2 linked regions of the Homo sapiens genome follow. The protein of the gene in region 1 purifies or fractionates together with the protein of each later gene. This does not show direct contact. Each region holds a gene or a part of one and is shown on either strand. Other genes may lie near its edges. The genes, in order: CBR3 and BTBD9.

The links.
Region 2: the proteins of CBR3 (region 1) and BTBD9 purify together in Homo sapiens (affinity purification with mass spectrometry; 3 studies listed by BioGRID and IntAct, with this or other methods). This does not show direct contact.

What each region holds. Positions count from the first base shown.
Region 1 is NC_000021.9:36,131,170-36,138,300, forward strand, and holds the start of CBR3 (carbonyl reductase [NADPH] 3), read left to right. Parts: upstream 1-3,909; 5' UTR 3,910-4,023; coding exon 4,024-4,312; intron 4,313-6,655; coding exon 6,656-6,763; intron 6,764-7,131. UniProt on the Homo sapiens protein: Catalyzes the NADPH-dependent reduction of carbonyl compounds to their corresponding alcohols. Has low NADPH-dependent oxidoreductase activity.
Region 2 is NC_000006.12:38,167,681-38,174,929, reverse strand, and holds the end of BTBD9 (BTB/POZ domain-containing protein 9), read left to right. Parts: 3' UTR 1-6,479; downstream 6,480-7,249.

The sequences.
Region 1 (7,131 bases):
GTATCTTTTAGCAATTACTTGAAGAAATACCATAATACTATATGTGGAAGACATCCCATTGGGGTGTTATTAAATGCTATCACAGAGCTCCAGAAGAATGGAATGAATATGAGTTTTTCGTTTTTGAATTATGCCCAGTCGAGCCAGTGTAGAAACTGGCAAGACAGTTCAGTGAGTTATGCAGCTGGAGCACTCACGGTCCACTGAAGCTCTGAATCCTCAGGGATGCCACCTGCACATTCTCATACTCTGTCCGGGCTCCCAGCCTAGCCTTTACCACGATACTGGTCCTGGTTTGGGGGGATTCTGAAACCTCAAACTAATAGAACTTTCTTCTCTTTTTTTCTAGTAGGTGTAGTCCTTCCTTAATTTCAACTCATTAAAAAATGCTTTATAGTTTAGGGCAGTGGAAGGAAGGCTGGCATCAAAATATTTTGATCAAAAAAGATGACAATGTAAAGGCTCAGTTATGGCAGACAGTTTTTTGAAAGTAACTTGTAAAGCATTTACCATATCCTAAATTTGCACTCTTTGCAGACTTGTGCACATATATTCCGCTTTCAGAATAGTTTTGCAAATTGTACACAAACAAACAAAAAGGTGGAAGCTTTTTAATAAAGAAATTGCATTTATAAATGATCTGTATTAGAATATAATAAATCTCCAGTTATAGTCAATTACTACCCATGTTGTACAACAGATACCTTCTATTTTAGTTGCTAATAAAGGGCTACACAACTCAAAATAAATAAATAAATAAATAATTTAAAAAATAAATAAAAATAAACTGAATGAAATTGAAAACATATCAATGTGAGATGCCACTAAAGTCATACTAAAAGGGAATTTACACCACTTACTGCCTACATTAGAAAAGAAGTCTCAAATCAATGCAAATCAATGACTTCTGCCTTTACAGTAAGAAACCAGAAAAAGAGCAAATAAAATCCAGTAAGCAGAAGAAAGGAAACAAAGATCAGAACAGAAATTAATATAATCAGGAAAAGAGAGAGAGAGAGAATCATTGTAACCAGAAGTTTGAGGAAAATCAAATCAATTGGTAAACCTCTAGCCAGACAGATCAGAAAAAAACACGAAAGACACAAACCAGTCTCAGAAATGACAGGTAGCATCATTACCAACATTAAAAGGATAAGGGCATGTTAAAAGGATAAGGGTATCAATAGAATCAACACCTTAGATGAAATATATAAAAAATTTGAGCTCTTTCTCAGTGACCAGGGCCTGTGCTTAGGCATAGACGGGCAAGTGGAGCCAACATGCCAGCGGCCCAGAGCTGGGTTTGTTGCCAAACTTATGTGACCCTGCAGAGACCCTTCGAGAAACCTCATCTCGACCAAAAGCTAAAGCTGATTGGTGAGTATGGGCTCCAGAACAAATGTGAGGTCTGGAGGGTCAAATTTACCCTGGTCAAGATCCATAAGGCCGCCCGGGAGCTGCTGACGCTTGATGAGAAGGACCCACGGCGTCTGTTCGAAGGCATTGCCCTGCTGCAGTGGCTGGTCCGCACTGGGGTGCTGGATGAGGGCAAGATGAAGCTGGATTACATCCTGGGCCTGAAGATCAATGATTTCTTAGAGATTCCTACAGACCCAGGTCTTCAAGCTTGGCTTGGCTAAGTCCATCCGCCACGCTCATGTGCTGATTCAACAGTGTCATATCCGTGTCCGTGAGCAGGTGGTAAATATCCTGTTCTTCACTGTCCGCCTGGATTCCCAGAAGCACATTGACTTCTCCCTCTGCTTCCCTATTGGGGTGGCCAACCCCAGCCACGTGAAGAGGAAGAATGCCAGCAAGGGCCAGGGTGGGGCTGGAGCCAGAGATGACGAGGAGGAGGAATAAGCCTGCTTGTCCCCTCCTGGGCTGGTGGATTGTCTAGTTTTCCTGCCAAATGATAAAACAGGATCAATGCTTTATTTAAAAAAATAAAATTATGAAAAACAGAAATTAAGGTCACTCAAGAAGAACTAGGCCAGGCACGGTGACACAAGCCTGTAATACCAGCACTTTGAGAGGCCAAGGAGGGAGAATCGATGTAGCCCAGGAGTTCAACCAGTCTGAGCAACACAGTGAGACTCCCATCTCTAAAAACAAATAAAAATAAAATAAAATAAAAAATTATCCAGGCAGGCCGGGTGTGGTGGCTCACGCCTGTAATCCCAGCACTTTGGGAGGCCAAGGCGGGTGGATCACGAGGTCAGGAGTTCGAGACCAGCCTGGCCAACATGGTGAAACCCTGTATCTACTAAAAATACAAAAATTAGCTGGGTGTAGTGGCAGCGCCTGTAATCCCAGCTACTCAGGAGCCTGAGGCAGGAGAATCGTTGGAACCCAGGATTCGGAGGTTGCAGTGAGCCAAGATCGTGCCACTGCACTCCAGCCTGGGTGACAGAGCAAAACTCCGTCTCAAAAAAAAAAAAAAAAAAAAAATTATCCAGGCATGACTGTGGCACACTTGTAGTCCCAGCTACTAGGGAGGCTAAAGGGGAGGATCACCTGAGCTCAGGAGACTGACGCTACAGTGAGCCACGACTGCAGCACTGCACTCCAGCCTGGGCGACAGAGAAGACCCTATTAAAAAAAAAAAAAAAAAAAAAAAAAACAGAAATAGAAAGCCTAAATAGCCCCATATCCTTAAAACAAGGTTCCAAATGATCTTTTTTTTTTTTTTTGAAAAGTCTCACTCTGTTGCACAGGTTGGAGTGCAGTGGTGCAATCTCGGTTTACTGCAACCTCCGCCTCCCGGGTTCAAGCAGTTCTCCTGCCTCAGCCTCCTAAGTAGCTGGGATTACAGGCACGTGCCACCACACCCAGGTAATTTTTGTATTTTTAGTAGAGATGGGGGTTTCACCATGTTGGTCAGGCTGGTCTTGAACTCCTGACCGCGTAATCCACCCGCCTCAGCCTCCCAAAGTGCTGGGATTACAGGTGTGAGCCACCGCGCCCGGACCAAATGATCTTTAGGAGAAAAAAGAAGGAAATACTGGGGGAGGCACAGTAGGAGATCACAGCAGGGGCCCACCTCCGGAACCTCAAGTAAGGACTTGAGAGAGAAGGTAGAGTCAGAGTAACAGAGACACAGGCGGGTTAGCCAGCTCTGCATGGAAAAGGCTGAGTCGTGATGATGTCATGGTTCTCCCCAAATCTCAAAGTCACTGATCAAACAACTCAGTTTACACTGAAGACGATGGATGAGACTCTAATTTTGTGCCCACAGCTTGACACACCTTTGGGAATTTGGTTTAACTTTCTTTGCCGGTACACAGATCTGTGAGAACATATGATCAATCCAGATCTTTATAGATCTATATCCTCCCTGGACAAACCTAAATGCAGACACTTTTAGCACCCGTAGGAGTTAGGTAGGATTAAATAAAAACATTCCCTCCCACTTGGGGGCACATTCACTGGGAATCCCAGAGCGATGTCGCCTGCCCACACCTGCTAAGTGCGCTCACAGGGCATCTAGTTCCCTCTCTTGAGTTCCTTTTAAGCAAGCAAGGCAACCTATGTCCAGAGAAGCAGTTACTGTGTCTAAGTAAGTCACTGCATCTTAGGAAAAAGCAAACATTCGCATTTTGCAGTGCATGATGGGCGCACACCCAAGAAAATTACTCAGCACTTGTTTTTCTCACTTTGGGGTTTTCCCAAAATAATTTCTTCAGTCCAGTTGCCAAGAATCTGGAGCCCCCGACTGACCCATCAAGGTCCGATTTGGCTTCGGACACCTCGCAGATCACCCCGCGGCTCAGAGCCCGGATCCTGAAGGGCGCAGCGTGGGCAGGGGGCGGGCCCGGGAGTTGGAACAGAGGGCACAGACGGCCCCTCCTCGGAGGGGAGGGACCGGAGCCGGGGCCTTTTTCTTTAAGACTCGCAGCACTGGATCCCAGAACTTAGTCTGCGCGGCGGCATTGACACTAGCTGGGCTCCTCGGGGCGCGCCCCAGGTGGTCCGAAGCCCGGTCCGCCCTCCACGCAGGTGCCCCGCGCTCCCCGCTCAGCCATGTCGTCCTGCAGCCGCGTGGCGCTGGTGACCGGGGCCAACAGGGGCATCGGCTTGGCCATCGCGCGCGAACTGTGCCGACAGTTCTCTGGGGATGTGGTGCTCACCGCGCGGGACGTGGCGCGGGGCCAGGCGGCCGTGCAGCAGCTGCAGGCGGAGGGCCTGAGCCCGCGCTTCCACCAACTGGACATCGACGACTTGCAGAGCATCCGCGCCCTGCGCGACTTCCTGCGCAAGGAGTACGGGGGGCTCAACGTACTGGTCAACAACGCGGCCGTCGCCTTCAAGAGTAGGTGCAGGGCTTGGGTTGGGGCCCCCTGGAGCGCTCCGAGGGTGCGGAGGTGGCCAGCCGCAGGCTCCCCACCCGTCCACTTGAGTGACCGAGGAGGGTGGCGCCGACCCCTAGGGATGCGCTCAGCCCACGCCTCCCGCGAGGCGGTTTTCGCTTTCCGTGATTCGCTGAGCCCCAGGCGGGCCCGGGCGACAAACAGCGCGCCCCGCCCGCCGGCCTGTGAGGGCCTGTGCGCGGCCCGGGGCCCTCCCCGAACTGTCAGCCGCTGTTGTGTGCAGGAAAACTGGCCTCCTGGGAGGGGGCAACGCCCTGCTAGAGTTCATCAGCTTTCCTTCCAACGCGAGAAACATTTTCTCTGCAAAGAAACGGTCTCCGCTCGCTTTGGGCTTTCGCTTTCCTTGAAAGGGCGCATTCATAGATGCCCGGAGGCATTTGCTCGGGAAAGGAAATGAATCGCTAAAACAGGATTAGCGCGCGCTTGCCCTTGGTGGACTTGACAATTTGTGTAATGCAGAGCTTTGATAGGCTCTGGCAAAAAGGAAGCGAGCCTTCTCGTTCCCCCACCCCCGCCCGGGGAGCTTATGTTTGTTATAAAATACGTGCGTGTGGTCTTAAAAGCATCTTCCTTAAGGAGAGGGGCGGGGATCAAGAGATTGCTTATTCTAACTACTACTGAAGAAAATTACAGGAGGGCGCAGTGGCTCACGCCTGTAATGCCAGCACTTTGGGAGGCCGAGGCAGGAGAAACGCTTGAACCTGGGAGGCAGTGAGCCGAGATCGCGCCACTGCACTCCAGACTGGGAGACAGAGCGAGACTCCGTATGAAAAAAAAAAAAAAGTTACTACGGAGAAATAAACAGGCCGGCTTCACCTCCAACCTAGTGGGGAAAAAAAGCCTAAGAGGGAGTGAAATGAAGGATGGGGGAGCAGAAGTCTCCACCCCTCCCTTTGGCCCTAGGCACTCCGCATTGTTGTGCATGGGGACCTGAGACTTTCTTTGACCCGCACGGGCAACTCAGCCTGCCGGCTTTCTGAGAGCTGGGGTGCAGGAGTGGGGATTAACACCCCCTAATGCAGCCCTCAGCCATGGGCTGAGAGATTGGTGGATAAATACCCGGCTTCCTGGACGACAGGCGGAGGGACTTCCCCTTGCCTTTCAAGGTATGGGGAATGGACCACCAGCAGCTGCAAACCTGGGCGCTCATGGCAAGGCAGAATCTCCCGCCTTGCCCCACACCTGCTGAATCAAAATCTGCGTTTCCGCTGGGCGCGGTGGCTCATGCCTGTAATCCCAGCACTTTGGGAGGCTGAGGCAGGCAGATAACCTGAGGTCAGGAGTTCAAGACCAGCCCGGGAAACATGGTGAAACACCAACTCTACTAAAAATACAAAAATTAGCTGGGCATGGTGGCTCACTCCTGTAATCCCAGCTACTCGGGAGGCTCAGGCACAAGAACCGCTTGAACCCAGGAGGCAGAGGTTGCAGGAAGAGGAGATTGCACCCCTGCACTGCAGCCTGGGCGACAGAGCGAGACTCTGCCTCAAAAAAAAAAAAAAAAAAAAAAAAAAATCTGCATTTCAACAGAATCCCCAGCTCCCTCCTACGCACCTTTAAGTTTAAGAAGTGGTAGTCAAAGCCAAGTGTTCTCAAGGTGTGGCTGGAGACCAGTAGCTGTCACATCATCTGGGAACCTAGAAATGCAAACTCAGGCCAGGTGCGATGGCTCACGCCTGTAATCCCAGCACTTTGGGAAGCCGAGGCGGGTGGATCACATGAGGTCAGGAGTTGGGGACCAGCCTGGCCAACATGGCGAAACCCTGTCTCTGCAAAAAGTAAAAAAATTAGCTGGGTGTGGTGGCATGTGCCTGTAATCCCAGCTACTCCAGAGGCTGAGGCAGGAGAATCACTTGAACCCAGGAGGTGGAGGTTGCAGTGAGCCGAGATCGCGCCACTGCACTCCAGCCTGGGTGACAGAGGAAGAAAAGAAAGAGAAAGAAAGAAAGAAAAGAAAAGAAAGAAAGGAAGGAAGGAAGGAAGGAAGGAAGGAAGGAAGGAAGGAAGGAAGGAAGGAAGGAAAGAAAATGCAAATTCTGGAGCCCTTACTCCAGCCCTTTGCAATCAGAAACTCCAATGGTGAGGCCCAGGAAGCTGTGTTTTAACAGGCTCTACAAGTGATTCGGATGCAGACTAAAGTTTGAGAATCACCGACCTCGTTCTTAAAAATTGTTTTAAAATTAACTTGTTTTTCCTTTAGTTGTTAGGAGTTAGGATCCACTTTGTCATGTGAGTTTCAGGGGGAAAAATATGACTTTCTTTTTGTTTCTTTCTCTTTTTGAAAGGTGATGATCCAATGCCCTTTGACATTAAAGCTGAGATGACACTGAAGACAAATTTTTTTGCCACTAGAAACATGTGCAACGAGTTACTGCCGATAATGAAACCTCATGGTAAGCCCAACGTGTGGACAGTCGGGTTGCATCCCTCAGTAAGAAGTGGGCTACAGGCTTCCCGGAGCAGGGCTACCCTGCAGAAATCACTCAGGGGTGCTATTTCTCTGAAGGGGGAAAAATAGAAAATTGCTTCATTTTCCCACAGTGTTTGGCTTCTCACTCCAACATTTTAGTTTAGTTTAGTTTAGTTTAGTTTAGTTTTGTTTTGTTTGGCAGTGGGGTGGGTGGTGGGAAGAAATTTTGCTCTTGTTGTGCAGGCTGTAGTGCAATGGTGTGATCTTGGCTCACTGCAACCTCCACCTCCCGGGGTCAAGCAATTCTCCTGCCTCAGCCTCCCGAGTAGCTGAGATTACAGGCACCCACTA
Region 2 (7,249 bases), on another chromosome or scaffold:
CTCCTCCCTGAGCAGGGGTCTCTGTTGACTGCCCCCACCTCTGCCCCTTTCCAGGGAGGAGCCGACCTAGCTGCAAAAGCAGACACCGAACAGGTTTTCTCCCAAGGACAGAAAGGGGCTGCTTTGTTCTTCTCAATTTATCCAAATCAGGCAGGTCTCAAGGGGGAGAAAATGGGTCTTCAATCTTCATCAAGTCCACCATTAACACCCTACCTCTCTAATCTAGCCCAGGCGCAGGGAACAGGAGGAAGTCATAGACAGGCCTGTGTTGGAATACAAAAATGGCACGCAAACACTCAGGCGGAGGAGAAAGCCATTGGGCCTTTGCTACCTGGAGGCACCCTTTAGGAATGGGCCTCCATAGAGTGTTCATTCTGCTGGAATACATTGCCCTGGCAACTAAATGATTTTTTATTTGTTTTAGTTATTCTCCACTCAGTGAATCATAGGTGTTCCGGATCTATTTGAAATGCTCAAACAGCAAATCACTAGTTTTAATCCCTTTTGATGCTATAATTTTCCTTCCTTGGTTTTGAACGGTTCAGCTTGCGGGGACAGAGACCCATCGTGCATGTCTCCTAAATGAGACACGGATGCAGCTCATCCTGGCACTTGGGCCACAGAGGAAGTGCCACAAATGCACACAAGCAAATCAACCTGTGGACACTGGAGTTAATAGTCACTCGTGTGGCTGAGTTACTCACCTGTCATTCCTGACATGGATCCAGCCTTTAAGCTTGGGAGGCTGACAAGGAAATAGTTACTATGCCCGCTGCTAATTCACTGTTCCGAAGTCCATGTAGATAAACATATACCGAGTTCTGGCGTGGCCAAACCTGCCGGGGACTGCCGTGGCTTAGCTGCCCCTCCAGTTGTGTTTATCGAAGCATTGGAGAGGCAGCCACCTGCCCATCAGCGTCAGGAACGCAGAACTGGGACTCCGTGCTTCCCCCACACCACAGTACTCAACTGGGGACTGAAAAATAGCAGTTCCAAGAAGCTTTTCTCCTAATCCTCATCAAAAGGACCTCATTTGACGATGGTGGCTTGATGTGGCTCCGTCTCCTACTTAGTGATTTCCATTCCAGTGCTGCCTGCCCTGGGTAACTGCGCACAACATTGCCTGCCCCTCCGCTGTCCCCAGAGCTCCGGCCTCTGTCGCCATCAGCATCAGCCTGGGAGTCTCCCCAGGACGGCATGGCACGTGAGCAGCACTGCAGTCCTTGGGTCTTCGGCGCCAACCTGCAACCCTGATCAAAGGAGGGTGAGGGCGTGGGAGTTTCCTTTCAGGTGTGTCAAAGACATATCAGCTGCGCTCTAGAAAGAGCCAACGGGTCAGCCGCTTCCTCCTAGTTTAACTTGATTTTGAGTGATTTGTCCATATGGAAATAGTAGGGTAGCATCAAACTGCGTGATTAAATTGGAAGACTGTCTTTCCGTGTGAACACAGGATGGCAGACATCAGAGGGCTACCGGGGCAGGGTGGACACGTTCCTGAGGAGAAGCCAGGGTCTGCAGCTCTCCATCCTCCCCGGTAGCTCCAGCTGCAGGGCTGAGCTGCTTCCTATCCCCTCAGCTCTGATCTCTGCCACTTCCCTGTTGTGTGGGAGAGTGGAACACTCCTGGGATGCCAGGCATTTCATAATGGGAGGAGGCTCCTGTAAGGAACGGTGGGCGCCCGCTCACAGTGGGGGGCCCTCCAGCATGGTTGCTGACTCTGTCAGCCCCCAGCCCCGGGTTGCCAATTAGCCAGAGAGCTCCTGCACACACAGCACTTCCTTCCCCAGTGTGTTTTCTACCCAGATGGGGACAAAGGAGCCAGACAGTCATATCAAGGGCAGAGTTCAAACATTTTGAAATGAGCCATTCACATGCTTCTTTTTAAACATGGGCATCACCTGCCCAGAGGCCCTTGGCCTGAAGCAGCATGCTGCTGACCTTGGGAAGAGAGGGTGGGCTGGTGGGGGTGCTGGAGGAGCTGCCCGGCCCTGCATCTGCAACCCTCCAGTCCCCTGCCCACAGAGCACGCAGAGCCCTCCTGTGCTCCGGGAACGAGATAGCAGCTTGGCAGCTCGGCCTCGCATCTGAAAAGGAATACGCTGCAAAGCCTCGGCCCTAGACCCACATCTGCAGCTCCCTGGCCTGTGGCGGTTCTTTCCTTCGGGGCATGCCCTTCCAGATCTCTGTCCCTCCTGTCTTCTAGCACTTTAAAGATGCCCCTTATCATCAGATAAAGAGAAGTATGGGGACGATGGGGTGGCACTAACAGTAGATGTCATTGGTGAGGACTGATGGCAAAGTCTCATTCCCTCACAGCCGCGCTGCCAGCTCGCCTCCCCCTCGCTTTGCTGGGAGCCTGCCCTGGACTCCAAAAGGACACGGGTTCACCTCCTTTCCCAGGCTGGAGGGGTACTGCCCTTCCCTGAGGGGCCTTCTGACTGGGGCAGGAACTCTTTTCGTGTGTCCAGCTGGGCCTGGAGGCCAAGTCAAGGTGTGTCACACCACACACCAGGGCAAGGACCTCATCTCCAGGGAACAGGGACAAGTGAGTGGCTACCAGAAAGTCCCCGGGCAGCCTGGAGTTCCCCAGAGCCTGGCTGGTCCTACAGAGCACTTCTCCCCTGGGCCACCAGGACCAAAGCGACCTAAACACTTGAAGCTAAAAGCAAGTGCTGATGATGGGATGGGCTGGCACGTGGCTGGGAGGGCTCCTGGGCACCACAGAGCCCTCAGCCCAGCAGAGAGTGGAGGCTCAGTCCGTGGGGAGCGGGGGTTGTGAAGGAGACATGGCCAAGCCCCTGGTCGGGGAGATAAGCTCCCCCATGCCCAGGCCAGCCCCAGGGGCAACAAGCCAACATGGAGAGAGGTGGCAGGTGAGGCTGACAGGTGGGTGCCTGTGGCCTGGGCCCATGAGGGCAATGGTCCTCAGTAACCAATGGAAAGGACACAAGGGCGCCATGGTCACCACCACCCAGGCAAAGAAATGGGAGGTGGCCAGCACCCCCACCCTTCACTTTTCATTATTATTATTATTATTATTATTATTATTTTTTTTTTTTTTTTTTTTTTTTTTTTTTTTTTTTGAGAGTAGAAAGGCAACTTCATTGGAGCTTTTGGGGAAAAAAGCCTTCAAAGTCACCTTCTGGCAGCTCTGGGGAGGGTCATTTGGGGTGGACTGAGAGTGTAGGGCAGGTAGGGTGTGTGCTGGGCAGCAGCTGTGTCCATGCAGCCAGCACCCAGCAGGGCAGTCTCACAGGAGCCGTTGTGAGCACTTTGGACTTGAAGCAGCTATGAACCACCCCCCGCCCCCACCGTCTCTCCCTCTCACACACACACACACACACACACACACACACACACACACACACACACACCCGTTTTACCATTTTCTCAGTGCTTTTTCTGCTTTCATTCCTTTGATTTTAGTTAGAAGCACAAGCCATGATGGATGTGGGACTCTTCTCAATTGCTCTTTAAATTGTCACTTTTTAAATCCTATTAAATGAAGTGTCGATTCCTGACAAATACATTAAAAGTGTTTTATTCCTAGAAGAGTTGGGAAAAGAAATTATTTTCAGCAAGAGTAGGATGTTTGTTAAACTGATTCCTTGGCAAAAAAGAGAAAAAAAGCTTTTGAATTGTGCAAAAAATTGCCCAGTATTATGCTGTCGCCCCAGTTGTCAAACTGCTGTGCAGATGGCTCCAGCCCAGTCAACTTCACCTTCTTTTTAATTTAGAAGATAACAAAATTGTAATCACTTATCCTTTCCAGAGCCAAGGGGGAAAAGGAAGGTATAATCTACAATAAAAAGCGAGCGTTCTGTGTACTGAGGCCACTTGGTGATAAAGAGATGGAGCGCTCCCCTCACAGACTTCAATTAAGAACCTCCCTTTGGACAGGGAAGAAAGGTGTCAAAGAGGAAAAGAAAATTAAATTTGCTTCCTTCCAGGAGTTTTTCCTCATTAGTGCTTGCTTGTCGGTGTTATTATTTTAATCTTACCTTCTATGTGGTGACCAGCTCCTCCGAGCGATGCCCAGGTCGGGCACGGCCCGGGCAGGGCAGGTCTGCAGCGATGCCGTGGCAGAGGTGGGCATACTCCATTTGTTTTGGCAGCTGCAGCCATTGATTCTGCATATTTTTCCTGACAACAGCCCCGGCAGGAGTTCAGTTAGGAATTTAAAGTGCAGTTCATGGTTCTGTGCCACCGTGGCTTTTATTATTATAATATTAAATTAGAAGTTGTCCTAGTGCCTGGTGTTTGCTCAGAGTTTCCAGAAGAGAGGGAAGGGCAAGGTTTAAATGGCATGCAGGACAACTGGAATGCCCCCATCTCTCTCGCTGACACGGATCCAGTCATACCTGGGGCTGGACGGGATTTGGAGGCCCTGGTCATTTGCAGAGTGAATGGTGAAGGGCGCGGAAAAGGTTTGCTTGGAGGAAAGACCGGTTGCAGAGGCGAGGCGGAGGGAGGAGGGGCGGAGGCAGCAGGTCTTTGTTTGTGGTAGGTCTCTGGCTTCCATCAGGGAGGAGGAAAGAGGCTGTGCCCTTCCTGGCTCTTGGCTGCACCACTGAGGACGCTCCGAGGGACAGCGTGCTCACCCATCCTTTGCACAGTGCTGGCCCCAAGCCCCACGGCCTTCCAGCTAGGATTTTCTGCTGGGCTCATGCAGAGGCAGGGGACAGGTGCATGGAAGAGCCGCCCCACCCGACACACCATTGTTTGAAAATCACTGTTCTCTTTACTCACTTAAAAAAGTGTACAGGGAACACCTGTTCCTGGCATAATGCTCCAACCTCGCGGAAGGGGCCAGGTGCCCTTCATCTGGCTCTGGCTGCTTCCGACCTGGGCCCACGTCATCGTTCACGTCCTCTGTGACCACCACTGGTCACGGTGCTCCCTGGCCCAGCCTCCAACCCACCCAGCACCCTGGCATCTCCCAGGCCAGTCTGCTGCACCCAGCGAGCTTCCAGTCAGAAGCCAGGCTGAACGGCCCTCCTGCCCCATCAGCTTCGTGTCTTCTTTTTTTTAAAGAACTGAAATAGTCCCCAAGAGGCCTCATGGCCTGAAGACTCACAATCATCCACCTGTAATTTATGATAAATGTCTGGGAGCATTTACCATTTGCGTCCGTGAGTATTTATAGCCCTGAATGGGCGGGGGGGAGGGGGGGTGGAGGAGGCCCTGCAGCCAGGAGCTACACACCTGTCCCCACTAGTGTCCCCTGGTTGACAGAGCCCCCTCAGCCTCCCCAAGGCTGTCACTGCGGCTGTGACAGCTGAGGAGTGCCGCCTTTGAAAGCCAGTGGACAGTCGCTCCACTAGGGGGAGAGGCCCTGGCCCTGGCGCAGAGGAGGCGTTGCGAGGCGGGACGGGGGCTGGAGGGGCTGAGCAGCCTTCAGGGCAGGGACTGGGCCCTGGGTCACTGGAGACGTTGATATTAGTCCGTCTGCTGCCAAATTGCTCCCCACCACATGAGCCCCAGGGGTTTATGTCCCAGGAAGGCGAGGGTGCCCATCTGAGCGGAATTGGGAGGGGACGGCACCAGCTCATCTCCCTCAGGGCCTTTGCCTCCTGGTGCTGCCCTGGTGGCTGCTCCTGCACCACAGCCCCTGATGGCTGCTGCTAGTCCTGAGTTGCTGGGTTTACCCCCAGCCCACACTTCCCACCTGGGCCTGAGGGTGCGGCCAGTGCCCTAGTCCTAGCCACTACAGGAGTCATTCTGAGACCTGCTGGAGGCCATGGGGTCTTCCCAGGCCCCTCAATCAGCTGCTTCCAGGGTCAGCAGGGCAGGGTGCTGCCAGTAAGGTCCTCAGGGAGCACAGCCCGGCCGCCCAGGCTGGGGGATACTGGGGCAGAGCTTCCAGGTCTGTGGGGCCTGATCTCTCCCCAAGGCTCTCCAGGCCTTGGTGCGCCCTCCACAGTGACCTTCAGAGAGGCTGCACCCCCTCAGAAGAACAGTGAGAAATCTCTCCATCACACGCTCCCTGGTCCTTATGTCCCTGAGGCCACCCTTCCCCACCCCCCAGTGCCTGGAGAAGCGTGAGACTCTGGAGGGGCGCCAGGAGGCCAGGGGTCCTCAGGGCTAGGCCTGGAGCTCGGCCCAAGAGCTGCTTTTGCGAAGCCTGTCTTGAATCCGGATTCACCAGAGAACAAGAGCCTCCCAGCCTTTGGCGTTTCTGGGCCTGTAAAGATGTGTGTACCTCCCAGGCCACTCTGATGCAAGGGCAGGGACCATGCCAGGCCTGGGTTGGGAATGGCTCTGTGACTCCAGAAGCTCCGTCTAAAACTCCAAAGATGCCCAAAAGGCTGTGCTGCTATGTGGAATGTGTATTATTTGTGAGCACGATGCGGCTTCTTCCTCATTTTGCAGAGCAACCTAAGCGGGCAGATGTACAAACCGTGTGTTCGAAACCCCTGAGTCCATGTGTGTGAAAATGCAGGTTTTCTCTTAGAAATAAAGTGGTGACTTGTGCTGTATTCGAGTCGTCACTCTCTGCAGCAACCCCTCTCGATGCCCAGGGACAAGCAGGGGGCCCAGGCCAGGGTCAGCCCCTCTGCCCCAGTGCCCTCATATGGACACTGCCATCCGGCCCTCTCTGCAGGCCCAGGCACTCAGGGGTGTCCACCCAGGCCCCCGCTCGCTTCCTCTGCCTTGTGGAGGGAGGCAGACAGCCCTGGAGCAAAGCAGGCACAGAGAGGCCGGCTTGCTCCAGGGCGGCGGCGTGGGCAGATCCAGCGGATTTGGGCCAGCACTGTCACCGGCTCTGAGGGCCTTCCCTCAGGGTGGAGGGGCTGTCCAGCTCCCTCCCACCTCCTGTGGCACTCTCTCCACCCCACCCCATGGCCTATTCGATGCCATTTTTGGGGGGTTAGGAAACACCACCTTGAACCCAGTCCCCTTCCCTTGTCATTTCTCCTCCTCTGAGCTTAGCCCCAGCTGCTTTCTTCCTCATGTCTTGCTTCTTCTACCTGATGAGCCCGTGAGTATTTGGTAGCAACTTCCCCCATTTATCTTGCTTCCCAGGGGAGATGCGGGGAAGGGAACCAGTGAGCCAGGAGGCGGCCCCTTGCAGGCGCTGCCGCTCTCCCTGGCCCCAATCTCGAGTCCTGGGTGTGTGAACTCAGTGTTGCAGGCCCTGCCGTCTGGGATCCAGTGCCCTCTCCTGTGACCCCACAACTGGGCCTGAGTCTCCAGCAACTCCGCTGGTGCATGTGGGGCCCAAGGCTCCATGCGCTGAACATGAGGG